Linked DNA regions of Homo sapiens. The protein of the gene in region 2 purifies or fractionates together with the protein of the main gene of each other region. This does not show direct contact. Each region holds a gene or a part of one and is shown on either strand. Other genes may lie near its edges.

Region 1 (3,500 bases), on a different chromosome or scaffold from region 2:
GTTTTTGAGACCTAAGAAAGGAAAGGGTGAAGTTGTTCAGAATAGTCCTAATTTTGGGTCTGTGTTTAAATTCTTTTCAGCCTTAACATGTTCTGAGAATTCTTTTTAATAATGCACACTTTTGGACAACAGTTAAATATATAGCTTACATAAATTTATTGATTATAAATGTGAATAACTTTGTTTTTATTTTTTAAGGAACTAAAACAGAACCGAAGTCAGGAAATTGATGACCATCAACATGAAATGTCAGTACTGCAGAATGCACACCAACAGAAATTGACAGAAATAAGTCGACGACATCGAGAAGAATTAAGTGACTATGAAGAACGAATTGAAGAACTTGAAAATCTGTTACAACAAGGTTATTAGTTTTATTTCTTTATTATTATTATTTTTTTTGAGATGGAGTCTCCATCTGTTGCCCAGGCTGGAGTGCACTGGCGCGATCTCGGCTCACTGCAACCTCCGCCCCCCGGGTTCAAGCGATTCTCCTGCATCAGCCTCCCAAGTAGCTGGATTACAGGTGCCTGCCACCATGCCCAGCTAATTTTTGTATTTTTAGTAGCAATAGGGTTTCGCCATATTGGCCAGGCTGGTCCCAAACTCGTGATCTCGGGTGGTCCACCCACCTCGGCCTCCCAAAGTGCTAGGATTACAGGCATGAGCCACTGCACCTGGCCAGTTGATAGTTTTATTAATTTAACATATTAGATGACATAACTAAATGATAGACCTAGCATTCTAAGACCAGGACAGTGCTGTAAACTTGCCCTAAGTTATAAGGAAGTGTAAATGACTAGTTCTGCTTATCTGCCAGAAATTTGCAGTGGCACCTCTGCTTTTAAGATTCTGTGGCCGGGAGTGGTGGCTTATGGCTATAACCCCAGCATTTTGGGAGGCCAAGGTGTGTGGATCACTTGAGGCCAGGAGTTTGAGACCAGCCTGGCCAACATGGCGAAATCCCGTCTCTACTAAAAATACAAAAATTAGCTGGACGTGGTGGTGCTCGCCTGTGGTCCCAGCTACTCAGGAGGCTGAGGTGGGAGGATCACTTGAGCCCAGGAGGCAGAGGTTGCAGTGAGCCGAGATGGCACCACTGCCCTCCAGCCTGGGCAACAGAGTGAGACTCCATCTCAAAAAAAAAAAAAAAATTCTGTGAAAATGGAAATGTCCTTTTTACCTTTGTGGTAAATAGTTATAATTTATAGATTTCTTTGCATTGTTTGGTGATGATACTTTGGTAATAAATGATTAGAGATATTATCACTTTCTTTCAAACTAAGATACATAGGCCTTTATGTAGTTGATTCAAATATTTTCCCCCAACTTATTTATTTTAAAACACTTAGTTTATTATAGTAATTTAACTTTTAAGCTTTCCAAATTCTGAACTGTCTTATATCTCTTAGTTGTATATAGCAAACCGTTTATTTCTTGGTACTTGACATTTGATGTCATTGTTTTGTGTTTATGTTCTAGGTGGCTCTGGAGTTATAGAAACTGATCTCTCTAAAATCTATGAGATGCAAAAAACTATTCAAGTTCTACAAATAGAAAAAGTGGAGTCTACCAAAAAAATGGAACAACTTGAGGATAAAATAAAAGATATAAATAAAAAATTATCTTCTGCAGAAAATGACAGAGATATTTTGAGGAGAGAACAAGAACAGCTAAATGTGGAAAAGAGACAAATAATGGAAGAATGTGAAAACTTGAAATTGGAATGTAGTAAATTGCAGCCTTCTGCTGTGAAGCAAAGTGATACTATGACAGAAAAGGAAAGAATTCTTGCCCAGAGTGCATCAGTGGAAGAAGTGTTCAGACTACAACAAGCACTGTCTGGTATACAGTCTTTGGAACTTATTTCAGATTGCTGTTTCATTGCATAGTAGTTGTTTTTAGAGACAGATGCTTCACTAACTGAATACTTAGTGGAAATGGCATATTCCTGGAAATGACTGTGTGTCATTTGGGTAGAATTGTGTGGTTTGGATTCAGTGTAAGAGTTAATAGATTGCAAATAGGAATTTCCTATTAAAAAGGATTAGGTATTGCTATACTTTCTGTAACTCATCACAGCCCACATCCTCCAGTTAGGGAATACAGCCTTTCTTCTTCAAAGTCAGTTGTTACCTGTTTGAAACGATCTCCTATATCCAAGCAAAGCCCTGAGTGCTTAGAGCCATAGGTCTTCCACCATTTTCTATGCTCATGATGATATTTAGTTACTGTACCAGTATTCTGTGTTACAGAAAATTAGTACTAAATGAAATAGGCCAAACACCAGTAAATAAAATAAATTTTAAAGTAATTGTACTTACGTTTTAAAAAATAAGTTTACTTATTTAAAAAATAAATTTACTTACATAAGACTAATACATTTACTTACTTATCATATTGGGTGATCCAGATGAGTTTATGTGCTTAAAAGACAAACCCACTGCCTTAGTCCTTCCTCTTTTTTCTATTCCATTGACACAGAATTACTTCAGCCAGTCATAATTGCTTTTTGCCTATGTTAACTATGGCAGCTCTCTGAATGGAGCAGAATAGCGTAGTGGTTAAGGACATGACTGGGTTGGAATCGAGCTCTATCACTAATTAGCTGACCTTGGACAGGTTAACATCTCTATGCATTGGTTATTTCATCTATAGGGTTGGGATAATAATGGTATCTTCCTTGTAGTTTTAGTAATGAGGATTATATGAGTTACTTTCTGCCGCTCTTTAGGATAGTGTCTAGCCAATAGTAAATGTTGAAGAGTTAGCTTTTTTTTTGTTTGTTTTTTTGAGACAGAGTCTCGCTCTGTAGCTCAGACTGGAGTGCAGTGGCACGATCTCGGTTCACTGCAACCTCCACCTCCCGGGTTCAAGTGATGCTCCTCCCTCAGCCTCCCAAGTAGCTGGGACTACAAGCATGTGTCACCACGCCCAGCTAATTTTTGTATTTTTAGTAGAGACAGGGTTTCACCATGTTGGCCAGGATGATCTCGATCTCTTGACCTCATGATCTGCCCACCTTGGCCACCCAAAGTGCTGGGATTACAGGCGTGAGCCACCGCCCCCAGCTGAAGAGTTAGCTTTTAAAATTCTCTGTTCTCCATGATTCCTTCAATCTATTTTTTTCATTCTGCAGCCAGAATAATTTGTCAGAAATGCAAAGCAGGTTACTCCCCTGCATTTAGTACTTTATAGCTGCCTGTGAACTTCGGGATGATGTTTAAATTTCTTAGTTAGACATGATAATGTCTCTCATGATCTAGTTCCTGCCTATCTCTTCAGTTTCAACTATTCCCATGCTCCTGACATTCTAAACTTGAACCATATTGAATTTTCTATAGCTCCTTAAAGCAGCAATGTTACCTCTTCACTCTGTTACCCTTGCATTTTCTGCTTTCTCTGTGTGGAGTGTCTCTATGGCTCTTTTAGCCGACTCTCAGTATATTGATTCAGTGCAGGTATTAACCTCCACTGAGAAGTACCTAGCACTGCCACTT
Region 2 (4,372 bases):
TCACGTTTAACTTTGGTGACATAGAGATACACACCATCCCTAAAAAGTCTAAAGCCAGATATGATTTATATGGGCATATCTGTTACCTGACTTTCAGCCTTCCACATCATAATCCCCTGAATGCCCTCCCTACGTAGGATGATTGTCTCCTTTCTTGCAAACTTTCTAGGAATTGACACATGAGGCTACAAAGATGGTGTTGGCAGACCTAGGTTAATAAGATAATATTGACAGGACCTCATCATTATAATACTTGTGATTTAAGCTTTGAGTTGGGTCTGGATAAGTCCAAAATTTCTTCTGTTGCTTCATCCACACTTCATGAAAATTATTGGTTTCTCTGCTGGAATTTATGTGGGTCATGGATAAGTTGTGCATGGTAATAAATCCTTATGTTATATGGAGGCCCAGTAATTTGGAGGAAATACTAATACCTTTATTTGTTTTGGATCATAACCACTATGCTATACTTTGTTGAGTGACACTAAAATAACACTTATACCTTATTTTGGGTTCCAGGCTCCTGATCATATCAGTAGAGCTTGTGAACAGGCATCTCAGCCATGTTCTCCGTTTTGGTACGGCCGTGTAGTGTTTTTCCATCCATCTTCCCTCTTAGATCTTGTGAATGTGAACCATTGAAGGATTGTTTTTTTTTTCTCAGACCCAATGTCGTCGGAGTTGCTGATTGCATTTATTTTCTTACCAGCATGTATTTTTGTTTACTTTGCAAAGAAATGCTTATTTCTTTCTTTGAGTAATAAGCCATTATCTTGTTGCTAAGTTTATGTGACATCAGAAAGCACAGTTCAGTTTGCATCACTTAATCAGAAATGTGTGGACTTTTAATGATAATAATATGCAAAAAGTCATTAATGTCTAATCATTTATGCCAAAGGAGATTTGGGAAATATGGTCAAATTTGGTGAAGGTTTTGTAACTTCGGACAGGTCTTAAGCATATTTTGTTTTATGTTTATTTTATTCTTCACGCTGTTCTATCATATAGACTTAACTATGTGAAGCAAGAAGTTTTGGGTTTAACTAAATGAACTTCACTTGGCATCTATATGGAAATTAGATGGTAATGTACTTGAATTTCTAAATTAGTAGTTTTTAATATGGTCAATAGTATTAAAGCTTGGAAGCCTAGATTCTTTTCTTTTGACCCCAAGTGGAAAAGAAAGTCTTCCTTGTTTGTTTGCTTTTTTTTTCCTTGTGACTGTGAAAGCTAGAATAAAATTTCTGAAGATCATACCCTCAGAGTATCAGTAGCTCCTGAGTCCACAAAAACATAACTAAACATACATAACTTACAAAATTACCTCCTGGCCGGGCGCGGTGGCTCACACCTGTAATCCTAGCACTTTGGGAGGCCGAGGCGGGCGGATCACAAGGTCAAGAGATCGAGATCATCCTGACTAACATGGTGAAACCTCGTCTCTACTAAAAATACATGAATTAGCCGGGTGTGGTGGCACGCTCCTGTAGTCCCAGCTACTTAGGAGGCTGAGGCAGGAGAATCGCTTGAACCCTGAAGGCAGAGGTTGCAGTGAGCCGAGATCGCACCACTGCACTCCAGCCTGGCAATAGAGCGAGCCTCCGTCTCAAAAAAAAAAAAAAGAAAATTACTTCCTTTGCTATATTCCTTTTCTTTTTATAGGTGACTTCCATGAGCTATCAGTTTTTTAATAAACTCCCTGAGGGAAAATAGGCTTTCTTCCATTCTCATCTCTGGACTTCCTCTGTTGTTTTTTAATAGACATATTTACCACTAGATATTGTGTTTGCTTTTCAGCTCCATAGTCTTTTCTTCATTTATACACGTGACTCGACTCTGTCAGGCGCAGCTCTCATAAAGTAACACCAGGAGGAAATTACTTGTTGATGCTTTTGACTATTTGGGGGTCTTTTGTAATAAATTATTTTCTGTCGTAATTCAAAGCAGTGTAGCTGACAGGGATCATGTGTGCATGACGTGTGTGTATGTTTTTTTCTGGTAAACGTTGATGCACTAGTACATGCAGGGAGTACTTTTTTGGTTTAAACCTGTGGTTATTGTTTATAGCACTTGGTATTTTCAGAAAAGAGAAAAATAATCTTAAAATGTCTGGGATTTTAAAAAATTCATTTTAAGTATGCAGAACTCTATTGGAATACCACCTGGAGGTGCTACCTGTGGCCAAACCCTATCACTGTGCCACGTTAAGTGTCAAGCATTCTGTAGACATTTGTTTGTTTGACTGAAGGAGCTCATATGGAATTAGCACAAGTTGCTACCACCTGTGAATCTTTCTTGTTGGGAGAAATAGTTTGGCCACTTCATCTTTTACCACCAGGCCTTTTCTTGATATTGTTAATAAATTAACACCATTTCCTATTCTGCTCAGCTCTCATGCCGTCTTCCCTGACACTTCCAGCTGCCTCCATGGAAGTGGCGGTGGATAGTTGGAAGCCAGCAACAACCACAAGGATTCTTCAGGCTTGAAGCTATGTTGGGTCATGTTTACTTCTTATGGGAAGTAAGGGGTGCTGAGGACACACTTGGAAGTGAGATGTCCAGTGATGTTCACTCTTGAAATGTAGATGTAGCTCGTGAAAAGTGGTGGCATATTCATTTGTGGCAATGTGTGAGGCTCATCACTGGGGACACTGATTTGCATTTTAAAATAAACTTTATTGTAGGAAAGCTTTGGATTTACAGAACAATTACTGAGGCTGTGCAGAGTTCCTACATGCTCGATACTCAGTTTCTCCTACTAACATCTTATATTAACATGTTTGTCACCACCTTGAGGAGAGACTACCTATACAAATTATTTGGAATTCTGAACAACAGATGTGTTTCTCCCCCTTTATTTATCGAATCAGTTATTTGTATCAATGTGAACTCTTGATATCCACTTTGTACTTTGTCATCTGGTACTGTTTTAAGTATTGCTGCAGTTATTCCCTCTTTGGCTATTGAGGGATCTTTCAGTTGGCTCCTGTGTCCCTTTGACCTCCCCCACCGTGGTGTCTTTCTTTGAGCACCTCCTTGCTTTCTGGCACCGTGTGATGTTCCAGTCTTAGAATCGGCCATTTGTATAAGGATCGCTTTGCATGTTTCACAGCTTGCTTTGTAGGAGTTGTTCTGATCTCGTCGGCCTCATTTATTTAGAAATAATAATAGAATTTTAAAACAAATTTTATTTCCAAGGGCAAGTTGGCAAACTCTTTACCTTCCTTGAAGAGGTTTGTCAAGGAAAAGTAGATGAGAATAGAGGAAAAGAGAGAAGTGGACTATACCAATTTGGATTGGTTGAAAATTCTGGTGTGCAGCCAGCAGGACATACAACTGCTGCGGGCCAGGTTGCTAAGTGGCCCGACCTTTTCTTGTCTGAAGGTTTAAGTGATGCTCACCCACCGTCAGGGGATGAGGTAGTAGTTCTCCCAATATGTAATTCCTAGAGTTTTATGTGGAAGTCACTTTGTGTCCTTAACTTTGTTGGAATTAACAGAGCTGGAATTTAATTGACACGAAGAAAGATCCCTTTTCTTTTAGTTGTGGAGAGAGTTTATTCAGAATTCACATGGGGAACCTGGCAAGGCTGTTGTTAATGTTTTATCTAGTTCGGTGTATGCATAAAGGAATAACAATTTCAAAGTGATTGACTTGATGCCTTTAGGGCACATGAAGAAAATGCATTTAAAGACACAGTCTCCTTTTAGTTGTCATAGATTTTATTTTAACCCAGGCCACCTATTATATTTCATGCACACGTATTCTCATTTAAGTCCTGTTTAGAAAGTGCAGGTGACTTATGGTGTCGGTTAAAAAGTAATTCAGATAAAGCAAGTCTGAAACTGTATTCTCAATAGAGGAAAATGAAGAATCTATGCTTGCATCCAAATTCCAAATATGTGATTTATTATTTTTTTTATTTGCTCTTTCTCAAATAGCTGCATTTTGGGGGGAAAAGCCTGAAACTAAATAGTATTTATTGGAGATGAACATATGTAACAAGATTATTTTCTGTAAGAGTTGATCTGAGTTCTTTCTCTGCTCTATAGATTTATTGTAAAGCACTGAAGTTTACATTCATCAAAAGGTAGACTATGCAGACAGCTATGATTATTATTTTAAGGAATTTTCCTATGATTGTTATTTTTATTTGTTTCTAGGTTAAGAAGGCTTTTTTGCTCTGTAGCCTGGACGTACTTTGAAGCCCCTCCCCACGATGCTGTACGTGCACAATGGTTACTAGGCAATCCGTACATCAGGAGAAGGGACACTCTTCCATAAGGCAAGTTGCCTCAGGGTCATTGGTCATCTGTGTTGTTCCGGGGGAAAGCTCACTTAACTTTTACTTCTCTCTTAAATCAGTTAATGT
Region 3 (4,372 bases), on a different chromosome or scaffold from region 2:
ATTTTTGTATTTTTAGTAGAGATGGGGTTTTGCCATGTTGGCCAGGCTGGTCTCGAACTCCTGACCTCAAGTGATCTACCTGCCTTGGCCTTCCAAAATGTGGGATTACAGGCAAGAACCACCGTGCCCGGCCTCCTTATGATATTTCTTAACTTTTTTTTTTCCTCTAGCATACTTTATTGTAAGAATACAGTATATAATACATATAATACAAATAACTGTTATCAGTAAGGCTTCAGGTTAAGTTTTGGGAAGTCAAAAGTTATACATAGGTTTTCAATCTCTACATTGTTCAAGGGTCAATTGTAATGACATTTGAGACTGTCTCAATAAATTAGCTCAGATAGTGGAAGCCAAGGGATAAGTTCTGCACAGGCAGAGAACTTCCAAGTGGCTTTTTAACCCACTTTTAAATCCAAAGACAGCCAAGAATCATCAGACTCTGATGAAAACCTCTAGATGAAAGGCAGCAACCAAGACAAACCAAAAACAAAAAAAAATGTAATGGAAACAGACCATGAAAAAGAAAAAAAGATTTGATGATAAAGATGAGGAAATCTTCCAGAAAACAAACAAAAAATAGGCAAAACAATAAGAATAATAGAGAACCATTCTAGAAAGTCCAGCACTAAATAATAGGAGTTCTAGAAAAAGAATAGAGAAAGAAGTAATTAGCTCCTCCTTAGTTCTCTACTCAAAACTCTCCAAGGGGCCCTATATGTAACTCAGAGAAAAAGTCAGAATCTTTTCAATAAGGCCTACGTAGACTTCCCTGTTTAAAATTACAAGCTGCATCCCATGCATGCCATCTTTTCGTCTATTCTCTACCCCACCACAATTCTTACCACCTTCTCTACTCCATATTTTACTTAATGCATGTTGTTTACTGTCTCTATCTTCTGGTGGACTGTGAATACCGCAAGTTTAGAGACTTGACTACTTTTCTCACTACTGTATCCCAACTGTCTACAATGGTCCCTGGCGTACAGTAAATAATTAACAAAAAATTATTGAATTAATCCAATGAGTTTTAAAGGAAAATAAACAAGCCAAGTTACAGACAAAGGAACAAGAACAAGAATGGTATTGGTCTTCTAGTAATAATGGAAATTATAAAATAATAGGACAATAATGTCAAAGTTCTGCGAGAATGATTTTCAACCTACAACTCTATAATAATCAAGTGAAAGAGAATAAAAACATTTCCAAACATGCAAGGTCTTAAATTGACCTCCAATGCACTAAAAGAATGCTTCACCAAAACAGGGGAGTGACCAAAGAAAGAGAAAAACCACACCACTAATAGAGTAGAGGTCAAACAAATCCCCAGAATGATGGTGAATATAGATCCTAGGATGACTACTGTGTAGCAGGTTTCCAGAGCAATCAGTCCAGACTGAAGACAGTCAGAAGGCTCTTGGAAATAATCCTTTATGACTTGAAAGAATACCTAATGTATCTGAAAACACTGAGAGAATACTTACACAACTTGAGCAGAATTTGGGGTTGAATTACATGAGAATAGAAAACTAAGCAAATGAAAAAACAAGGCAATCATTAACTCCACAGAAAATAAAAACTTGGTCACAAAAGGAAAAACAATCTGCCTATTACTACATGGCTTGGCTATGAATTGTGTTAACACAGCTATGACAATGACTACTGAACTAACCAATTTAACATTTACCCATATGGGGAAAATTGGGGGACAAGTAGGGAAAGTGTGTGTTGTGTATATGCAGGGAGTGCTGATGTGAAAAACAGCTAAAAATTCAGCGTCAATAGATCAGAGTTAACAGATAATACCTAAATCTGAAAAACCTATAATTAGAAATATAAACATTTCTTAGAGATTTCTTAGAGATTCAGAGTTAAATAAAAACTTCAGCTAAAAGATTTGAGAGTGATTGTCTTTGTGGGTAATGGTAGTGGTGTTGGAGAAGTTTTTTCTGAAGAGCCTTGTAAAAATATTTGACTCTTTAAATCAGAATTATATATTACTGATATTATAAATTAAAATAATTTTAAAAGAGCACTAAAACTTTCAAGAGACACATATCAGTTTATAAGTATATGGCTTTTAATTCTATTTTAGGGCCAAGTGAAATATTTTTTTCATAGTTGACTTCTAAAAGGTAATTGTATCCTTTTAGGGAGGCAATACATCCTGCTATGAATGGCTAAAACATACCTGTTTGCTTGTTGGTGTGAGTTTTTCTTCTGGAGACTTTGTACTGAATGTCAATAAACTCTGAAAAGAGAGAATTAATGATGCAAAAGACAAACTGTAGAGTGCAAATCTAAACAAGGTGTTACAGGGTGTTAAAAAATGAGAAGGTCAAATTTTTCACTTTGATATATATATTTGACAACAGAAAAGGAATAAAAGATTTAAACCTATTTAATAACCACGATGAGAGTTACAAGATTATGTCTGAGAGATACTTAAGAAATGGTAATGAATAAAAAATATAACTGACAGACAAAACTCAAGCCACCATTTTAAAAATTGCAAATCAAACACTGAAAAAAAAAAGAAAAAGAAAAAAGAATCATGCAATTTAAAGTATTTTAGTTGTCTTCTGCTTTTTTGCTGTCACAGAGTTAATACAAGCAATACCTAAGGAACCTCAAAAGTGTGGGGTAAAACGGTAATACATTTACATTAATAATGCTGCTGTACTGAGCATATTAGACAATTTTTTGGGAAATAATCCTTTAATGAAGCTGTTTCACCTAGAAACAAACTCACACCAATAGTCATGGGCTATTAGTCTAAAATTCCATGTACAAAGTGATCGCCTTTTTTGAGGGAGGCAGTTACCTGTGATTTTGTTAGGAAGTAAAACTGGGATCTATTTAGCCACTGGTAAGCTTCTGAGGTGAAGGATTCAGGGACATCTCGTGGAACAAACACTCCCCACTGGACTTTCTCTCTGGAGATACCCTTTTGAATATACAATGGCCTTGGCTCACTAGGTTTAAATACAAACACTAGAGGGAAAAAACAAAGAAACAATAACATTTTGCCTGAAAAGGTTAGTTCTAGCCTCAGACTGGCAGATCACACTAATCCTGGGACTCACCCCATTGAGTAACTGGCCCAAGTCATGACTGTTTTAGGCTTTGATTCAAGAGGTATCTACTGTGTTCCTACTATGGGCCAGGCAGGTTAGGAATGAGGGCTATGAGGATGAAAAACAGAAAGAAGAATTCGTGCTCCAGAGGCCAGGGCCCACTGCAGAAGACAGAAACCAAAATATTATTACAGTAGTATTTTGTCTGTAAGTACTAGAAATGAGATATGTAGAAACTGCTTCAAGAACATAGAGGATGACCAATTAAAGCTTCTCAGGGGCAGTTGGAAATATGTCAAACTGGTGAAATCTCTTGAATTTTAAAGATTGAGTACGAATTGGCTTGTGGAAAAATAAGAAACATATTGGAGCTCTCCTAGAACTAAGTATGGACGCACACAATGACAAAGTGTTGGGGCAAAGAAGGGCCGTGCCTCAAGCAAAATGGCTTCCAATTAACATCTGATGTGAAGGCAAGTTTGGCTCAAATTATATTAAGAAGAAAACTTAGGTCATAGATGTTCTCTTACTACAAAGTGTGGTTTGTACTTACAGTCTGAACCCACTGAAGACTGAGAGATTGCAGCAATATTCTCTGAATTAGGATCGGGTTCCATAACTCTAACATTTAATTTTGCATTCCACTCCACTGAGGGGAAAAACAAAGGTGATTCACTTCTAAGGAAAGATTTACCAAAAGCTTTAAAAAACTTCTCTTATTCTTAGGAAGAGGAATCTTATGCTTCCAACTAACACACATGGAGACACACTGAAATGATTTGTAGAATGCTGCACTAAAGTGAGAGGCCGAAAGAAAAACATACTGGAACTGTAGTGCTCCTTGTACAAACTATGAAAAGATTATTATTTCATTGAAATTTATGTCTAGTGCTTTTCTGATGCTGCTAAATGTGTACAGTATGTTAACCAGAGTTAACTGTAAAGAATACTGAAAAAAGTTACCATACACATTCATTTATAAGCAGCTACTATGCCTTCCAAACATACACTCAAATGGGTAAAATGCCACTAAGTTCACATTTGTTAGGACTGTGATAGACTACATTTGAATTTAAGCTGTCAGGGATAATGTAGATTAGTAAGTATTAAAAATGAGCAGAAAACATTATTCAAATTGTTACGAGGATGGGGAATATGGAGGGCATCAGAAAGTCACACACACTGAAAACAGTAGAAAAAGGTAAGGATAATGGAAGCTGACGTACCAACAATTAAGCAGTTAATAAATAATGTCTATTACAGGCCCAGTATTCCAAATTTTGGTGGCATCATAT
Region 4 (4,372 bases), on a different chromosome or scaffold from region 2:
TGTTCTATAGTTGGTTCCTTGACTAACCTCTCCAAGATTAGAGATTGGATCATTCATCTTTGTATCCCAGTAACCAAGTATGGTTGGTCTTCAGTAAATATGTGTTTAATGTTAAACAGTACACAATGAGATCAAGTGTCAATCATGCAAAATGTACTTGGCCCCATCTCACCTTTAAGAATATGTCAGATAAGTTGGGTGTGGTGGCTCATGCCTGTGATCCCAGCACTTTGGGAGGCCGAGACAGTAGATAAATTAAAGTCAGAAGAAATGTTAGAAGTTGAAAAGTTAGTGTTTCAAAATAAACTTCATTTTTGGAGCCAGTATGTTTTTTACCTATTGAAATATTAAACCTCTTTACTTTTTCCTTCTTTGTATCATCTGTCTTCCAAGCTTGGAAAACAAATTGACACTTGTGTAAAAAGTCATCAGTAACTAGAAAGTACCTGTAAATTTTTTGATACTCAGTAAATGGGAAACACAGCGTATCAGACTTCCACTTACTGGTATGCAAAGATGAGTTATTTTCTTGGCAAAATAAGTTTTATGGCAAAAATGACTACCTCAGAAGCTGAACATATTTACCATATCTGTCTACCTGCCTGATACTTTGCAGATGGTCAGTCTGGTCAGCCCGCTTTTTGTACATCCTATCAGAATGATGACCCATTAAATGCTTTGAAGAATAGCAACAACCATGATGTGCTTAGACAAGAAGACCAGGAAAATTTTTCCCAAATAAGTACCAGCATACAGAAAAAGGCCTTTAAAACAGCTGTACCCACTGAACAGAAGTGTGACATTGACATTACCTTTGAGTCCGTGCCTAATTTGAATGACTTTAACCAAAGAGGGAATTCTAATGCTGAATGTAATCCACATTGTGCTGAATTATACACCAATCAGATGTCCACTGAAACTGAAATGGCTATAGGGATTGAAAAGAACTCTTTGTCTTCAAATGTACCGAGTGAATCTCAGTTACAGCCTGATCAGCCTGATATACCAATAACTTCATTTGTTTCACTTGGTTGTGAAGCTAACAATGAAAACTTAATTCTCTCTGGGAAGAGTTCTCAACTTTTATCCCAAGATACTTCATTAACTGGAAAGCCATCTAAAAAAAGTCAATTTTGTGAAAATTCTAATGATACAGTAAAACTTAAAATTAATTTTCATGGTTCCAAGTCATCAGATTCTAGTGAAGTTCACAAGAGTAAAATAGAAATTAATGTGTTAGAACCAGTTATGTCACAGCTATCAAATTGCCAAGATAATTCTTGTCTTCAAAGTGAAATACTACCTGTGTCTGTTGAAAGTTCACATTTAAATGTATCTGGACAAGTAGAAATTCATCTTGGAGATTCGCTGTCTTCTACTAAACAACCATCTAATGATTCAGCATCTGTTGAGTTAAATCATACAGAAAATGAAGCTCAGGCATCCAAGTCTGAGAATTCACAGGAGCCTTCATCTTCTGTAAAAGAAGAGAATACTATTTTTCTCTCTTTAGGTGGAAATGCTAACTGTGAGAAAGTTGCACTGACGCCTCCAGAAGGCACTCCTGTAGAAAACAGTCACTCTCTTCCTCCAGAATCTGTGTGTTCTTCAGTGGGAGATTCTCACCCTGAGTCCCAAAATACTGATGATAAACCTTCTAGCAACAACTCAGCAGAGATAGATGCATCAAATATCGTCTCTCTCAAAGTTATCATTAGTGATGATCCATTTGTTTCCTCAGATACTGAACTTACCAGTGCTGTTTCTAGTATTAATGGAGAAAACCTGCCAACTATAATCTTGTCTTCTCCTACTAAATCACCTACTAAAAATGCAGAACTAGTTAAATGCCTATCTTCAGAAGAAACTGTAGGTGCTGTTGTATATGCCGAAGTAGGGGATTCAGCCTCAATGGAACAGAGTCTTTTAACATTCAAATCTGAAGACTCTGCAGTAAACAATACTCAGAATGAAGATGGCATTGCTTTTTCAGCTAATGTTACACCATGTGTTTCCAAGGATGGAGGATATATACAGTTGATGCCAGCCACAAGCACAGCTTTTGGCAATTCAAATAACATTCTGATAGCTACCTGTGTGACTGATCCAACAGCGTTAGGAACATCTGTAAGTCAGTCTAATGTAGTGGTGTTGCCTGGAAATTCTGCACCTATGACTGCTCAACCTCTACCACCTCAGTTACAGACACCACCAAGGTCAAACAGTGTATTTGCTGTCAACCAAGCTGTGTCACCAAACTTTTCACAAGGTAACTTTAATAACATAATTGAAATTTGTTTCTCTGGGTTGGGATCTAATTTCTTTTGTATGTGATGTTATTGACTGCGAAGTAATAACTAATGAGTAGATGGTATGAGAAAAGATTCTGAAATTTGTGATTACGCTGCTTCTTTATGCTAGCTAATTCAAACCTTTTTTATTTTTCTTAATCTGCTAGTAAGCTATGGGCTTTAGTGGTTTTTCTTTTTTCTTTTCACAAATACTTCTCAATCTATGTGCTAGTAAGTTACAATAAACAGAAAAGACAGACTAATTCATCACATAGTTGTATAAAACCCAATGTTGTGGGGGAGTTTTTAAAAATAGCTCTTATAGTCATGGTCTTCAGGGAATTCATCATCTTTTTGGAGAAATTTTCAAGAAAAACTTGAATTTCAGCCGGTTATGGTGGCTCACGCCTGTAATCCCAGCACTTTGGGAGGCCGAGGTGGGCCGATCGATCACCTGAGGTCAGGAGTTTGAGACCAGCCTCGAGAACATGGTGAAACCTCATTTCTACTAAAAATACAAAAAAATGAGCCAGGCATGGTGGCAGGTGCCTGTAATTACAGCTACTTGGGAGGCTGAGGCAGGAGAATCTCGTGAACCCAGGAGACAGAGGTTTCAGTGAGCCAAGATCATGCCATTGCACTTCAGCCTGGGCAACAAGAGCGAGACTCTGTCTCAAAAAAAAAAAAAAACTTGAATTTCTTCCTTTATAAAATCCTTTCTAATTGATCTCTGTCTTTAAAATCCTTTGTTTATGGCTGGGCTCAGTGGCTCATGACTGTAATCCCAGCACTTTGGGAGGCCGAGGCGGGCAGATCACCCGAGGTCAGGAGTTCAAGACCAGCCTGGCCAACATGGTGAAACCCCGTATCTACTAAAAATACAAAAATTGGCATGGTGGTGGGCACCTGTAATCCCAGCTGCTTGGGAGGCTGAGACAGAAGAATCTAAAGCTGGGAGGCAGAGGTTGCAGTGAGCCAAGATCGCACCACTGCACTTCAGCCTGGGTGACAGAGTAAGACTCTGTCTCCAAAAAAAAAAAAAAAAAAAAAAATCCTTTTTTCATAGGGGCTCTTGTGGCATTTATTGCGTGCTGTGTTATATGTAGTTAGTGATTGATATGCCTATCATATTGATAATTTTTTATTGTATGTTCCTCAGAGATAGTGCTCATGGCACATTTATTTACATTTCCTTATGTGTTGGTTCCCAAGCTTCCCTCTTTTCCCTTTTTGTTACATTATAGACATACAATAAAATTTCATTAAATATCAACAATTAGTATTAAACCTAATGGGTCTGTTTTACGTGCTGTTACAAATTACATAAAGGAGAGGTCAGAATTAATAGAGAATGTGGGGCTTGAGCTAAAGCTTAAAGAATGAAGGTAGGATTTGGAGTTAAAGCAAGGAAGTTTTTATAACTTATAAAATCTGTAAGTTATAAAGAGAAGCAGCACCAGCATAGACAGAGAGACCGTAGTAGGTTGCATGAAAATGAGGGGATCAACCTGACAGTAGTGTATTAGGCAAAAGTTTGTTTATGGACAGGACTAAATTACAGTAGCCACAAACTATGTTGTTGACTTCTGAGGACCATGTAGACATTGTAATTTTCCCTCCATAGTTTTGACCAGTTACGTGCTTACCTTACCCCCTTTTGATCAATACCATTGAGATATGTAATAGGTTGGGGTTACAAGTGTAGTCCTGGGTATAAATATTCAGTTGGGGTTGTAATTTTCTGGTGTAAGGTTCAGACTTGAAACATTCACCACTCATTTTCTAACTAGTTTCATTATTTCTAGAGGAATCCAGATATGATTGTAATATGATGTCTTGGCTGTAGAGTCTTATGCTTGATCAGCATGGTTCACTGACTGAATAACATTAAGACCACCTTAATATTTGGATTGACTTTTTCTTAATTTGTTAGCCTTGCTGTTTTTCCTAAAACTGTTTCAGTTTCGTTTTTTTTGTTTTGTTTTGTTTTGTTTTTGGAGAGTGGATCGTAAGGAAGAGGGATTGTTCATAGAATTTATTTCAAAGCAGTAATTAATTTGTGCCAAACATTTGTTTGTTTT
Region 5 (4,372 bases), on a different chromosome or scaffold from region 2:
TCTCATTTTATCATGTGTGTGTGTATTGGTGGAATTTTCCAGAGTCTATGAGACATGTAATGATGTTATAGCCCTGAGGGCTAAGGGTTGTACGTTTATGTTTGTAGTTTAAAATGTTCTCAGTCTTAGGGTCCAATACAGTAAACACGGATATAACCCAGACACATGAAAGTTCTTTGGAGTCCTTGATACTTTTTTTAAGAGTGTAAATGGGTTCTGAAGTCAGAAAATTTGAGAAATGCTACAGTAAGCTATCCAACGTGGCATGTCCTGCGACCACAGTGGCAACAGGGCGGCCCCATCCCACCTCTACACCTGAAGGGTGATTATGGGACCAAAAGTTATTTCCTGAGGATGTGGGTTTACAAGGGATAGACCTAGAAGAACATTGTTGTCTATTTAATCTAGGACGAGGGTCTCCTTTAGGCTTGTGTTGATCTTGAGATCTCCTTGGAATTACTCAGAAGCATAACTAAGAACCTCCAGAGCTTCTCAGGAGCTTTGTGGAAGAACACAGATATTCCCAGAATCCTCACCATCTCACACCTAGAGCCTTCTCATAAAGCTAGGCATCACCTCGACACCTACTGTTGCCCACTTATGCCACTCTGAAGCCTGGACTCACAGGAGATCAGCCCCAACTGCACAGCCCCAGATGATACAAAATAGCTGTTTTTCCTTCTCAGTGGTGATCGGAGGGCACTATCCATCTTAGTTTTACTGAGGGCTAAGCTGGATACAAAAAGCAACATCACAGAGACAGGCACCCAGATTCAACTACGAACTGTATAGGAATGAATCTTGATTGCATATGTATTTATATGTTCTCCTACCTTTAAATAATAAACCAGAAGTTCGTTAAGAGCAGGGTCTGCATTCAGATTGACTAAGTAGCATTTGTCATCCCCCACCTTGATACCGGACATCTCCAGGGAAATCCCCATGCTTTCAAGTTGTCGTTGTCTTTCCTGTGCACAAAAACAGACAAAAGAAGGAAACTCTGTTTGTTGTTCTATTCACAAGATGTATCCACGGAAAGAGTAAGTCACTGTTTCTGGGGACAATGCCAATGGGATTACACATGCTACTCTGCTCAACCACATTAACAGAGAGTCTACAGTGCATGACATCTTGTGGCAGGCGTGATAGGGGCACCAAGGATGAACCAGACACCATTTTGGCTCTTAAGGAGCTTAGAATCTAGTAGAGGGAACAAGACCACATAACTAGAGCACAAAAGAGGAGAGTGTTGTGCTATTGAAGGGTACAAAATGCCAGGGGCTTCCCAGGAGAGACATCATGATGGGTTAAGAGACCAAGAAAGGCTGCAGAAAGAGGATATATTTGAGATAGTTCTTGAAGCATAAGAATAATTTCAACAGAAATATAAAGATAGGGTGTTCTTGGGGCATGGCATACGGAAGCACACTAAAGAAAGGTTCTGGACATACTAGATGATTTCAGGGGCCAAGAACCCCTGGCAAATATCAGAAAGCAGTGAGAGTTAAGGCTGGAAGAGAAGGTTGGGTCTCTACTGCGGAAGGCCTTGTATTCACTCATTCATTCATTCATTCAAGATATATTTATTAGAGTCTACAATGTAGTAGGTATTGATCTCGGGCTGGGAATACAGCACTGAACCCAATGAAGTCCCGTCTTTCATGAAAAGTTATATTCTGGTGGGAGGAGACAGGCCATAAGAAAACAGTTAAGTCAATATGGTACATAGAATTTCCAATGGTGTTAAGTACTATGGAGAAACATAAAGCAATGTTAAGCGGGACAGTGAGTGAGGTGTAGGGGTATGTGTGGGTGTGAACGATATCTATAAGAAACACATCAGCAGAAGGCTGGACTGGGTTCCAGTGACTGCTGTTAAGCTACGTGATTGGGATGGTCCAATATTTCCAAATGATCAATGAGATTAAAAATGTTCGTGAAATATATAATGTAGAGAAATTCATAATGCACATAACCCCGAGAATTAGTCCTTCCTTTATATTTTAACTTAAGTAAAAGTTAAAATATAAACATACAGCATTTCCTAACAAGCCCAAAGAATCAAATACATTGAAAAATTATGATATGCTATACGTTACAAATTCTCTGTCAATTAGGTAGCCTCTTGGGAGGCTAAGGCGGGTGGATCACCTGAGGTCAGGAGTTTGAGACCAGCCTGGCCAACATGGTGAATCCCTGACTCTACCAAAAGATACAAAAATTGGCCAGTTGTGGTGGCACACACCTATAGTCCTAGCTATTTGGGAGGCTGAGGCAGGAGAATAGCTTGAACTGGGGAGGCGGAGGTTGCAGTGAGCCAAGATTGCGCCACTGCATTCCAGCCTGGGTGACAAAGCAAGACTCCATCTCAATAAAAAATTAAATAAATAAAAATAAAATAAAATAAAATAAAAATCAGGTAGCCTCATGCTTTGCCAGGTGATCTAAAAATCACAAAACAAGGCTGGGCACAGTGGCTCACACTTGTAATCCTAGCACTTTGGGAGGCTAAGGTGGGTGGATTGCCTGAGCTCAGGAGTTTGAGATCAGCTGGGGCAACACGGTGAAACCCCATCTCTACTAAAGTACAAAAATAATTAGCCAGGAGTGGTGGCGCAAGCCTCTAGTCCCAGCTGCTCGGGAGGCTGAGGCAGAAGAATCGCTTGTACCCAGGAGGCGGAGGTTGCAGTGAGCCGAGATTGCGCCACTGCACTCCAGCCTGGGCGACAGAGAGAGACTCTGTCTGCAAAAAAAAAAAAAAAAAAAAAAAAAAAAATCACAAGGCAGACTTTCGTTTAAATGTGAAGAGCAGGAAATATGAATGACATTTTCTGTAACCATGCTTGTTCAAATTTAGTGCTATCTAACACGTCTAGCAAATATACAGGCCAAACTGTACATTGATAAAAAGACCTGACGTCAATGTCTAAAAGTGATCTTTGCTGGGCGAGGCACAGTGGCTCATGCCTGTAACCCCAGCACTCTGGGAAGCTGAGGCAGAAGAATCACTTGAGCTCAGAGTTTGAGACCAGCCCGGGCAACAAAATAAGACCACAGCTCTACACAAAATAGATAAAATTAGCTGGGCATGGTAGCACATGCCTGTGGTCCCAGCTACTTGGGGGGACTGAGGGAGGAGAATCACTTGAGCCCAGGATGTTGAGGCTGCAAGAGAGCTGTGATTGAGCTGCTGTACTCCAGCCTGGGTGACAGAGGGAGACCTTGTCTTCAAAAAAAAAAAAAAAAAAAAAAGTGATCTTTGCAATCTCTGGTTCAGCAGAAAAGGGCCCTTAAAAGACTTTCTGAGGCTGGGTGCAGTGGCTCATGCCTGTAATCCCAGCACTTTGGGAGGCTGCGGCTGGCAGATCACCTGAGGTCAGGAGTTTGAGACCAGCCTGGCCAACATGGTGAAACCCCATCTCTACTAAAAATATAAAAATTAGCCAGGCATGGTAGTAGGCACCTGTAATCCCAGCTACTCGGGAGGCTACGGCATGCGAACTGCTTGAGCCCGGGAGGTGGAGGTTGCAGTGAGTCGAGATCACGCCACTGCACCCCAGCCTGGGCGACAGAGTGAGACTCCGTCTCAAAAAAAAAAAAAAAAAAGACTTTCTGAAGATGACAGCAAACTACACAGAAAAGACAATAAGTGAAAAAGAATCCCAATATTTTAGGGCTAAATTATCAAGCTACCTGTGCTATCTCTTCTGTTTTTCTCAGCTTCTCTTCCCAAGTCACTGTTAGTTCTTTTATCAGCTTTTCAGACTCTTCGAGCTTCTCCTTCAGTTCAGGGGCCTTCATGGCCTTTAAAATGAAATCAGAGATATCTGATGTTCAAAATTTTTCCACCATCATATACAAGACAATCAGTTACTGTCCCTCTTAAGCAGTTATCAATAGTCTGTTGGAAAAAATTAAGTTATATGCTGTTAGGGTGGGTTTTTAACCTTTATTAATCAAACGAATGTAAGAGAACATGGCTGTTCCCTGAAAAAGAAATACCAGTGTCCTGAATGAAAATGAAACAAATCATTAGTCATTTTATCCATTATACTTAAATTTCACATTTAAAGCCCTAAAAGATGCTAACGTTCAACTTTGAAATAGATAAGCAGGACAAAAGGTTACTTAAGCAGACTTCTTTTTCAATAAGACGGAGGTTAACACTCATCATCAATAAATGAATTCCAGTTAAATTAATCTGCTAGAAAAGGTAAAGACTTCTCATGTATTTTAAATTTTGAATCTGGGCCTTTAGACTACCTTTCTCCACTGATGGTCATGCATTTTGTTATTTATCATTATCATTCACCCAGAAGCAGCACAGCTGGCTAAAAAGGCAGTGGTTTCCCTTCTAGTTTGTTCAGGGAGA
Region 6 (4,372 bases), on a different chromosome or scaffold from region 2:
CAGTAAATCGGCAGTGAAAATTTTTTGTGAAGCAATTTATTTAGGCTTTAAAGCTGGCCCAGTTGTGGGAGTACAGTGAGTTCTAGTAAAGTAGAAGCGTAGTGACATCCTGAGTGTAGAAGGGGAAAATGTCATAGTAGCTTCATATGTGGCACTTAGTATTCCTTTATGAAAGATGAATCAAACATGCTTTTAAGCTCTTGGCCTTTCCCTACATGGGTTTTGTGAGACAGAGTTAAACTCTGCAGAAAATGATTTGAATGACTGTTCTCAGTTTTCCCTGAGAGGGTACCTACCTAGTTGGCTGTAGATGCAGAGAGAGAAATGAGTTCCTTACACACAGTGGGTGCCTTAGGCTTAGGGCATAATCTTCTCTGGGAGCCTTGATTGAGAGGGGCTGGTAGGTAATGTGGCTTAAATGTTGCTCATTAGTTTTGCTCTTTCTTTTTTTCCAAATTCAGCTAAGGAGTATAACAAGTTTTACGCTCTCTCTCTCTTTTTTTCTTGTATGTTCTCTGGAACATGGAATAAAAAGGACAAAAAATTGGCAACCTGAGGAAGAGGACAGACAAGGGGCATGAACAAGCCACAACCTCTAAGTGACAATATCTGTAGTCAGCGGTTAGGATCAAATATTTTAACATTGCTTTCACTTACAGTCAATGGTGAAACATTTCCAAAACAATTTATTTTAGTTAGAACTTCGGTTTGTTTCTATTTTGATCTAGCAATAAAACATGTAAGAAACATTCCCTGCAGCTTTGTTTATAAAGAGAAAAACTAAAAGTCTGACATTGGGGGATTGGTTAAATAAATCAGGAGCTGTTACGTAGGCATTGAAAACTAGGACAGTATGTATAGGGTGGTTCCAGTTACGTTTATATAAATATTTACACATTTTACATAGGAAAACACCATTGTTTTAAAAGTACACAATTTTATTATTTTACCTAAAAGTTTGTAAAATTGGATGGGATTTTTTTTTTTCCAAAAAAAGCTATTGATAAAACTTATTTTAATTTTAACGAAAATTGGAATGTTACTTTAATTGCAAAACACTTTCTGAGCCTGAAAAATGGCTCTTGGCTGGTTTGAATGCCGGTTAGGCAGGTTTATTTCTTGGTTACTTCAGAGCTGATATATATAATTTATTCAAACAACCATCTTCCAGTTGATTTCCTTCCCCCCCCCAAAGGTTTTATTTAATCTTCATTTGTTATAAGATACAGGGAGAGGAGAGAAATTCAGATCATCCTTTTTTTGTCTTTAACTAAATCTGTTTTTACTAACAGCAGTAAAATATTTGTTGGAAAAATGGAAGCTTAACCTGTCTAGACTGTGACCTATACCATAAAATGTGTGGTCTAGGACTGTTGTGGAGTGTCTTGGGCTGTTCAGGGAGGTTTCCTTGTACTAAGATCTTGTTAAATCTGATTCTAAGAATTGCATTATGTTGAAATTTTTGTTTCTTGGCTAAGGTGATGTTTCTGAGATACCTGTATTTTATCTCTAGATACTATTAGCTTTTATTAGCAGAACTACTGAGATTTTATTGTAATATTTTAAAAAGTGGTGGATCCAGTATCGTTTTTATAGGCTTATTTGCAGGATAATAGTAAGATTAGAAAATTCATTAGGATAATATATTTATAATTGAGTGCCTCATGTAGTTCTCACTTGGAATTTTGGAATAGCTTATACTTCCTGATATAGATCCTTGGGGAATTAAATGCATTAAGAGTAAATATTTTAAATTTTTTATAAAGCAGAACAGCTAATTTAACTTAATGGAGGGTTTTCATATTTCTTGTGATAAACTAAACTGCACATAGTTTAAAGAACTGTCAGCCACGTAGGCCATATAACAGCTATTCTTTCCAAGCCTAGAATCCATGCCATAGAATTTATGTAACAAATATTTAATGAGTATCTACTACATGCCAGGCATGTTCTGCTGAGTGTGCAGTAATGAACAAAATACAGCAAGTTCTTTCTTTCATGGTTACACTCTAGGGGTGAAGGCATGCAGTTACATAGCCTTACCTTGGGTGTTTGGTAGGTAAGGCTAAGTAGAAAAACAGGAAGGTAAGAGGCGTGTAGAGAATGAGGGATGTGAGTGGAGGGATGGTGTCTTCTGTAAGCCATCAGAGAGGGCTTCTCTGTTAGGTTCCATTTGAGCAGAAACTTGAAATAAGTGGGGAGTGAGCTGTGTGGATATATGGAGGATATTTTAGAGAAGAGCTTTCTAGCCAGTATGAGAGCAGTACCAGATCATTGTAAGAGTTTTGGTTTTCATATTTGTGAGATGGGAAACGATTGGAATGTGTTTTGAGGCTGATCTTAAATTATATCCATTTGTCATGCATATGTGAAGAAATGGACGGATGGAATTACATTATAGGGAGCAACTCTGTGTGCCACGCATTGTGATAGATGTTTACAGATCCGATCTTAGAATTTTCATTAATACTGTTTATTTTTCAGATGAACAGTTTGTTTCTAGTTTTTGCCTGGAACTTTCTCATGGCGTGTTTGTGTCTTCAGTTCCACTTAGAATGCTTTTTCTAAGGTGGTTATACCAGTTTACCGCTTGCTAGCAGTGGACAGAAGTTCTCCCTGCTTCAGTCTTTACCACCATGTGTCTTTTCATATTTGCTAGCCAATCTAGTGATGAGTAATGAGGTTGATGACCTTTTCAGATGTTTATTGGCTACTTGGATTTTTGTGTTTTGTTTTTGTGAAATACCTGCTCATCTGTTAACTACTTTCTATTGGGATGTTAGTTATATTCTAATTGATTCATAGTAATGACTGCCTTTCCAATTATATATTGTAAGTTTCTTCCCTGGTCTGTGGCTTGACTTGGAGCACTTACAGTGGTGTCTGTCCTTTGATCAACAGACATTTTTAATTTTAACAATTGTTTCCTTCATGGTTAGTGTTTTTTGTCTTATTTTTAAGAGGTCTTTCTTACTACTTTTCTGAAGATATCCTCTTATATTGTCTAATAGAAGCTTTACTGCTTTGCTTTTCACATTGAGAATCTACATTCTACCTGGAATTGGCTTTGTATATGGGGGAGATTGAGGTCAGGTTTCATTTTTACTGTATGGATACCTAGTTGTCCCATCAGCATTTATTGGAAAGAGTGTCATGTCTCCACCGCATTGTCATCTTTGTCATAAATCAGGTGACTGTGTAAGTAGATCAGTTTCTTGACTGTTCTGTTGGCTTGTCTGTTCTTGCAGCAAACCTACACTGTCTAAATCATTATGACTTTGTGTTATCTTGGTACCTGGTACATGGTGGTGTAGTTTTAGTTGTGGTTCCTCAAGATTGCCTTTATTTTCTCCTTTCCAGTCCGTATGCTGTTTCTTTCTTTTTCTTGCTTTTGATACTGGCCAGTTCAAGTGCTGGTAGTGGGCATCAGGGGTCAACTTTTAAACATTTACCATTAAGTGTGGTATTTACTGTGAGTAATTTTTGTATTTGCTTTTATCAGATTAAGGAAATTTCCTTATATTCCAAGTTTGCTATGAGTTTTTATGAGTGGGTGTTGAATTTTAGAAATGCTTTTTCTAAATTGATTTAATTATGGTAATTTATTGAAAAGAGTATATTTGTTCTGTAAGTTCTGTAACTTCAATAAGTAATGTTGAAGTTACTTTTTTTTGCCTTCAAGCATCTGTTTAACAAAGCACATCTTGCACCACCCTTAATCCATTTAACCCTGAGTGGACACAGCACATGTTTCAGAGAGCACGGGGCTGGGGGTAAGGTTATAGATTAACAGCATCCCAAGGCAGAAGAATTTTTCTTAGTACAGAACAAAATGTAGTCTCCTATGTCTACTTCTTTCCACACAGACAGCAACAATCCGATTCCTTTATCTTTTCCCCACATTTCCCCCTTTTCTATTCGACAAAACCGCCATCGTCATCATGGCCTGTTCTCAGTGAGCTGTTGGGTACACCTGCCACACGGGGTGGCGGCCAGGCAGAGGGAGTCCTCACTTCCCAGAAGGGGCGGCCGGGCAGAGGCACCCCCCACCTCCCAGACGGGACCGCGGCCGGGCGGAGGCGCCCCCCACCTCCCGGACGGGGCGGCTGGCCAGGCGGGGGCTGCCCCCCGCCTCCCTCCCGGACGGGGCAGCTGGCCGGGCGGGGGCTGCCCCCCGCCTCCCGGACGGGGCTTCTGCCGGGCGGAGACGCTCCTCACTTCCCAGACGGGGCAGCTGCCGGGCGGAGGGGCTCCTCACCTCCCAGATGGGGCGGCTGTGGGGCAGAGGGGGCTCCTGACTTCCCAGATGGGGCGGCTGCCGGGCGGAGGGGCTCCTCACTTTTCAGACGGGGCGGCCGGGCAGAGACGCTCC
Region 7 (4,372 bases), on a different chromosome or scaffold from region 2:
CAACCTACTGCTTTTTGATGCACTCTAGGTTATTAAACTTAACTTTCATCATCCTAACTCTTGTATTTTTTAGAGTAAAACATTCTAAAGTTTTTGCTAAAGCACAGCGCTGTATTACTCCCATACACACTCTTCCTCATTCCCATTCACAATGGAGGTGAGCATCCTCCACCCATGACAGAGCGATCCCAGTAACAGGTCATTACTTTTATCAGCTATTCTCCTTTACATGGAAATTTTGCCACAAAATAAACAATATATGTTGACCAGAAAAAGAAGTAGAGTGTGCTAAACTACACTTCACCTTTCTTTTGGGAAAGACAGTAATTCTTATCTGCTCTGCTTATTCCTAGCAAGTCATCAGATAAAACTGCTGCTAATAAAAGGTGAGCCCTCACACCTATAATCCCAGCACTTTGGGAGGCCAAGGCAGGCGGGTCACCTGAGGTCAAGAGTTTGAGACCAGCCTGCCCAACATGGTGAAATCCCGTCTCTAATAAAAATACAAAAATTAGCCAGGTGTGGTGGTGGGCGCCTGTAATCCCAGCTACTCGGGAGGCTGAGGCAGGAAAATCACTTGAACCCAGGAGGCAGAGGAGGCAGTGAGCCAAGATCGTGCCACTGCACTCCAGCCTGGATGACAGAGCAAGACTCCATCTAAAAAAAAAAAAAGGTGAGCCCCTATGGGAGTGGCTCTTTCATTATTTATTACTGTTGTTTTATTTCTAAGTTGAAATAGGAGAGGGGTACCAAAGAGACAAACATGTTTTAAGCAAAAACATCACCTAACTATAAGAAACATTTTTATTGATAACAATCTGGAAAAATCATTTTTACAAAACAAAAGGCAAAGGAAGTAAACAACTCTATGCGGAAACAGGTCTAACGGTAATGAAAATATGTTCAGACATACATAATATGCACTTCTATTTTAAATACGTATGAGTACATGGCTGATCTAAGTAAGAAAACCTGCAAGTTAAGGACAGAGTACCAATGTATAGATTTATGGCATTTATGTTATGATCAAAACTTCTTCAAAAATGCTCCTTGGAGTGTAAATATTAAGATACCACCGATGTTCAACTTACAAAACATATATTGTAGGTTTATTATCTGCAAGGTTAAACGGGTTGAGCAATGGGAGGAGAGACAAATAATGAGGCCTGGCCTCTGTCCTAAAGAGGTTCCCAGAGAGCACAGGAGACAGACACCCGCACACCAACAGAAGTCAGAATGGAAAGTGGAGAATTCTGCTAGAAATCTAAAAGACAGAAATGAGAAGAAAAAAGAAGATACCAGAAAGAGAGATTATTAAAATTGTTAATTTGCTAAACAATTTAGGGGATTAAAATAAACCTTACTCCAGAAATAGGATTATAATTTTGGAAAAAGAACAATTTTCCCCTGAAATGGGTAGACTCATTCCAGCTTGGCTCCTTCCATAATTACCAATTAAGTGATTTTCTCTTAAATAACTTACTGGGTTATCTTCTTCACACTCTTTCCACTCCTGATAAAGGTCTCTCATATCCAACAGCCTGTTGTCCAGTTTTTCCAAAGACCAAATCTGCTTTCCTTTTCCTTTTCTTCTCACCTGGATTGCAGGCTCACTAAGAAGAGAGCCTCGCTGCAAAGAGAGTAAGAATGACCGTGAGAAACACACAGGCAGCGGGGAAGTCAAAGCTGACAATTCCACCCCCATCAGTCAAATGTCATTACACCAAAACTCAAATGGCAATCATCCTTTAATCTGTTGATTACAAAGCCTCCAAAAAGTCTTACAAGCTATAACATAATACCTTCCTACCCAAGTGCAATCAAAACCTATTTATAAACTTCACTTTAAGTATAAACTTACATTAAAAATTTTTTGGGGGGAGTTGCTGGGCATGGTGGTTCACGCCTGTAATCCCAGCACTTTGGGAGGCCAAGGCAGGTGGATAACTTGAGGTCAGGAGTTCAAGACCAGCCTGGCCAACATGGTGAAACCCCTCTCTACTAAAAATACAAAAATTAGCCGGGTGTGGTGGCACGTGCCTGTAATGCCAGCTACTTGGGAGGCTGAAGCACAAGAATTGCTTGAACCCAGGAGGCAGAGGTTGCAGTGAGCTGAAGTCTTGCCACTGCACTCCAGCCTAGGTGACAGTATGAGACTCTCAAAAATAAATAAATATATACATGTGTGTGTGTGTAAAGAGACAGCATCTCACTCTGTCACCCAGGCTGGAGTGCAGTGGCACGTCATAGCTCACTGCAGCCTCGAACTCCTGGGCTCCAGTGATACTCCTGCCTCAGCCTCCCAAGTAGTTAGGACCACAGGTGCATGCCAATACACCCAGCTAATTTTGTCTGTTTTGCATAGAGACAGGGTCTTGCTATATGGCCAAGGCTGGTTTGGAACTCCTGGCCTCAAGTGATCCCCCTGCTTCAGCCTCCCAAAGCACAGGGATTATAGGCATGAGCCACCACATTTAAATTTTGACTGTAGTTGGAAATGATTTTAAGTTTAAAACCCAAAAGACCACATTTAACAGCAAGTTGAAATAAAAGTATTTTATTCAGGCCACCATATGACCACAACGTTATCAATGGGGAGAGAGGGAAAGTTTGCTGCGGTGTATGGGGAAGAAACGTCCCTCTCAGAGGCTGAATTTTGTTTTATTGTAATGGATGGCATCTTCAGGGGGTATAAAACATGAAACACTTAAAAGAGTAAACTGAAAAGTCCCCGATTCACCCACGTGGAAGCAATTAATGATACCAGTTTCCAAATATGCATTGTTTGGGTTTCTTATTAAGATCATACAGAACTAGATGGAAGCGGTGCTCACACCACATTATTACCGTGCCAAATGCCACTGAGTTATTCACTTTAAAATAGTAATGTTTGGCCAGGTGTGGTGGCTCACGCCTGTAATCCCAGCACTTTGGGAGGCCAAGGCAGGCAGATCACAAGGTCAGGAGTTTGAGACCAGCCTGGCCAATATGGTGAAACCCCGTCTCTACTAAAAATACAAAAATTAGCCAGGCATGGTGGTGGGCGCCTGTAGTCCCAGCTATTCAGGAGGCTGAGGCAGAAGAATCGCTTGAACCCAAGAGGAGGTTGCAGTGAGCCGAGATCGCGCCACTGCACTCCAGCCTGGGCAACAAAGCAAGACTCTGTCTCAAAAAAAATAATAATAATAAAATTAAAAAAAAGTAATGTTCTATTATGCAAGTATCACACCTCCCCCCCAAAAAAAGTATGCTCTGAAGTTTTTCCAGCTTATAAGAGCAATGTGGATTTTTTTCAGAGTAGAACTTGAGCAATGTGTTTTTAATGTAGAAAAAATTTTAGAACTTTTAAAAAACCACAAAGTTAAAAAAAAAAAAGCCCCTATACATTTCCCCGAGGGAGACATATCTACTGGTTATCTAATCAATTTAGGTTTACTGGCTTAATTTTTCAAATGTTCTACTTAAAACTGAAGAGAACTTTGAAATACATTGATGTTTCATTAACATCTTGCCTACAATCATTTTCTAAGAAAAAAATTTAAATAATAAAACAAACATTTGAGAATTCTTACGGTCAAAATGCGTGTGTGTGTTTTTTTTTAATTGAGACAGAGTCTCTTTCTGTCGCCCAGGCTGGGGTGCAGTGGCCCAATCTCGGCTCACTGCAACCTCCGCCTGGGTTCAAGTGATTCTCCTGCCTCAGCCCCCCAAGCAGCTGGGATTACAGGCGCCTGCCACCACGCCTGGCTGATTTTTGTATTTTTAATAGAGATGGGGTTTCATCATATTGGCCAGGCTGGTCTCGAACTCCTGACCTCAGGTGATCCGCCCACCTTGTCCTCCCAAAGTGCTGGGATTACAGGCATGAGCCACCATGCCCGGCCATCTTACAGTCAAAATTAAAGGCCCTCCTACCTTATATTCAGCCAGCCAGTGAATAAATACAAAAATCCCATTTGTGACCTGTGTGGGTAGTGGCTTTCCTGGGGGAGAATGCTGGACCTGGGACTATAATAGCAACGGGCAATATGGTGCAGCTACCATAACTTAGCCCTCTTGCAAAACTGGAAATAAGAAAAAAATTCACCAGAGAAGAGTTCACAGAATGGACAGGACTTTAAACAACTTTTCAAATACCAAAAAATAGTCTGTTGCACGAAAGACTACAGAGTCAGCCTAACTAAGGAGAGATGCCAGGCGACATGAGTTCTTCCAGGCGTTGACATGGCTGCCCCAGTGCAGAGCCACACCTTTCAACAAAGCCCAAAAGAGGTTACGGAGAAAAGGGCTGCGGTCATGCTTACTGGGGAAAAATCTTTCAGGTTTCTGCTTTTTTCAACTTATACACTATAAAATCAAAGAGGATCTTGTA

Evidence for each region.
Region 1: the proteins of ASB7 (region 2) and TRIP11 purify together in Homo sapiens (affinity purification with mass spectrometry; 2 studies listed by BioGRID and IntAct, with this or other methods). This does not show direct contact.
Region 3: the proteins of ASB7 (region 2) and WDR75 purify together in Homo sapiens (affinity purification with mass spectrometry; 2 studies listed by BioGRID and IntAct, with this or other methods). This does not show direct contact.
Region 4: the proteins of ASB7 (region 2) and NPAT purify together in Homo sapiens (affinity purification with mass spectrometry; 2 studies listed by BioGRID and IntAct, with this or other methods). This does not show direct contact.
Region 5: the proteins of ASB7 (region 2) and KIF13A purify together in Homo sapiens (affinity purification with mass spectrometry; 2 studies listed by BioGRID and IntAct, with this or other methods). This does not show direct contact.
Region 6: the proteins of ASB7 (region 2) and URI1 purify together in Homo sapiens (affinity purification with mass spectrometry; 2 studies listed by BioGRID and IntAct, with this or other methods). This does not show direct contact.
Region 7: the proteins of ASB7 (region 2) and KIF13B purify together in Homo sapiens (affinity purification with mass spectrometry; 2 studies listed by BioGRID and IntAct, with this or other methods). This does not show direct contact.

Annotation. Positions count from the first base shown.
Region 1 is NC_000014.9:92,012,560-92,016,059, reverse strand, and holds part of TRIP11 (thyroid receptor-interacting protein 11), read left to right. Parts: intron 1-198; coding exon 199-364; intron 365-1,482; coding exon 1,483-1,845; intron 1,846-3,500.
Region 2 is NC_000015.10:100,605,544-100,609,915, forward strand, and holds part of ASB7 (ankyrin repeat and SOCS box protein 7), read left to right. Parts: intron 1-4,163; 5' UTR 4,164-4,285; intron 4,286-4,372. UniProt on the Homo sapiens protein: Probable substrate-recognition component of a SCF-like ECS (Elongin-Cullin-SOCS-box protein) E3 ubiquitin-protein ligase complex which mediates the ubiquitination and subsequent proteasomal degradation of target proteins.
Region 3 is NC_000002.12:189,468,698-189,473,069, reverse strand, and holds part of WDR75 (WD repeat-containing protein 75), read right to left. Parts: intron 3,727-4,372; coding exon 3,631-3,726; intron 2,995-3,630; coding exon 2,825-2,994; intron 2,252-2,824; coding exon 2,192-2,251; intron 1-2,191. UniProt on the Homo sapiens protein: Ribosome biogenesis factor. Part of the small subunit (SSU) processome, first precursor of the small eukaryotic ribosomal subunit.
Region 4 is NC_000011.10:108,170,096-108,174,467, reverse strand, and holds part of NPAT (protein NPAT), read left to right. Parts: intron 1-616; coding exon 617-2,269; intron 2,270-4,372. UniProt on the Homo sapiens protein: Required for progression through the G1 and S phases of the cell cycle and for S phase entry. Activates transcription of the histone H2A, histone H2B, histone H3 and histone H4 genes in conjunction with MIZF.
Region 5 is NC_000006.12:17,830,268-17,834,639, forward strand, and holds part of KIF13A (kinesin-like protein KIF13A), read right to left. Parts: intron 3,805-4,372; coding exon 3,694-3,804; intron 969-3,693; coding exon 834-968; intron 1-833. UniProt on the Homo sapiens protein: Plus end-directed microtubule-dependent motor protein involved in intracellular transport and regulating various processes such as mannose-6-phosphate receptor (M6PR) transport to the plasma membrane, endosomal sorting during melanosome biogenesis and cytokinesis.
Region 6 is NC_000019.10:29,944,886-29,949,257, forward strand, and holds part of URI1 (unconventional prefoldin RPB5 interactor 1), read left to right. Parts: intron 1-4,372. UniProt on the Homo sapiens protein: Involved in gene transcription regulation. Acts as a transcriptional repressor in concert with the corepressor UXT to regulate androgen receptor (AR) transcription.
Region 7 is NC_000008.11:29,140,674-29,145,045, forward strand, and holds part of KIF13B (kinesin-like protein KIF13B), read right to left. Parts: intron 1,631-4,372; coding exon 1,484-1,630; intron 1-1,483. UniProt on the Homo sapiens protein: Involved in reorganization of the cortical cytoskeleton. Regulates axon formation by promoting the formation of extra axons. May be functionally important for the intracellular trafficking of MAGUKs and associated protein complexes.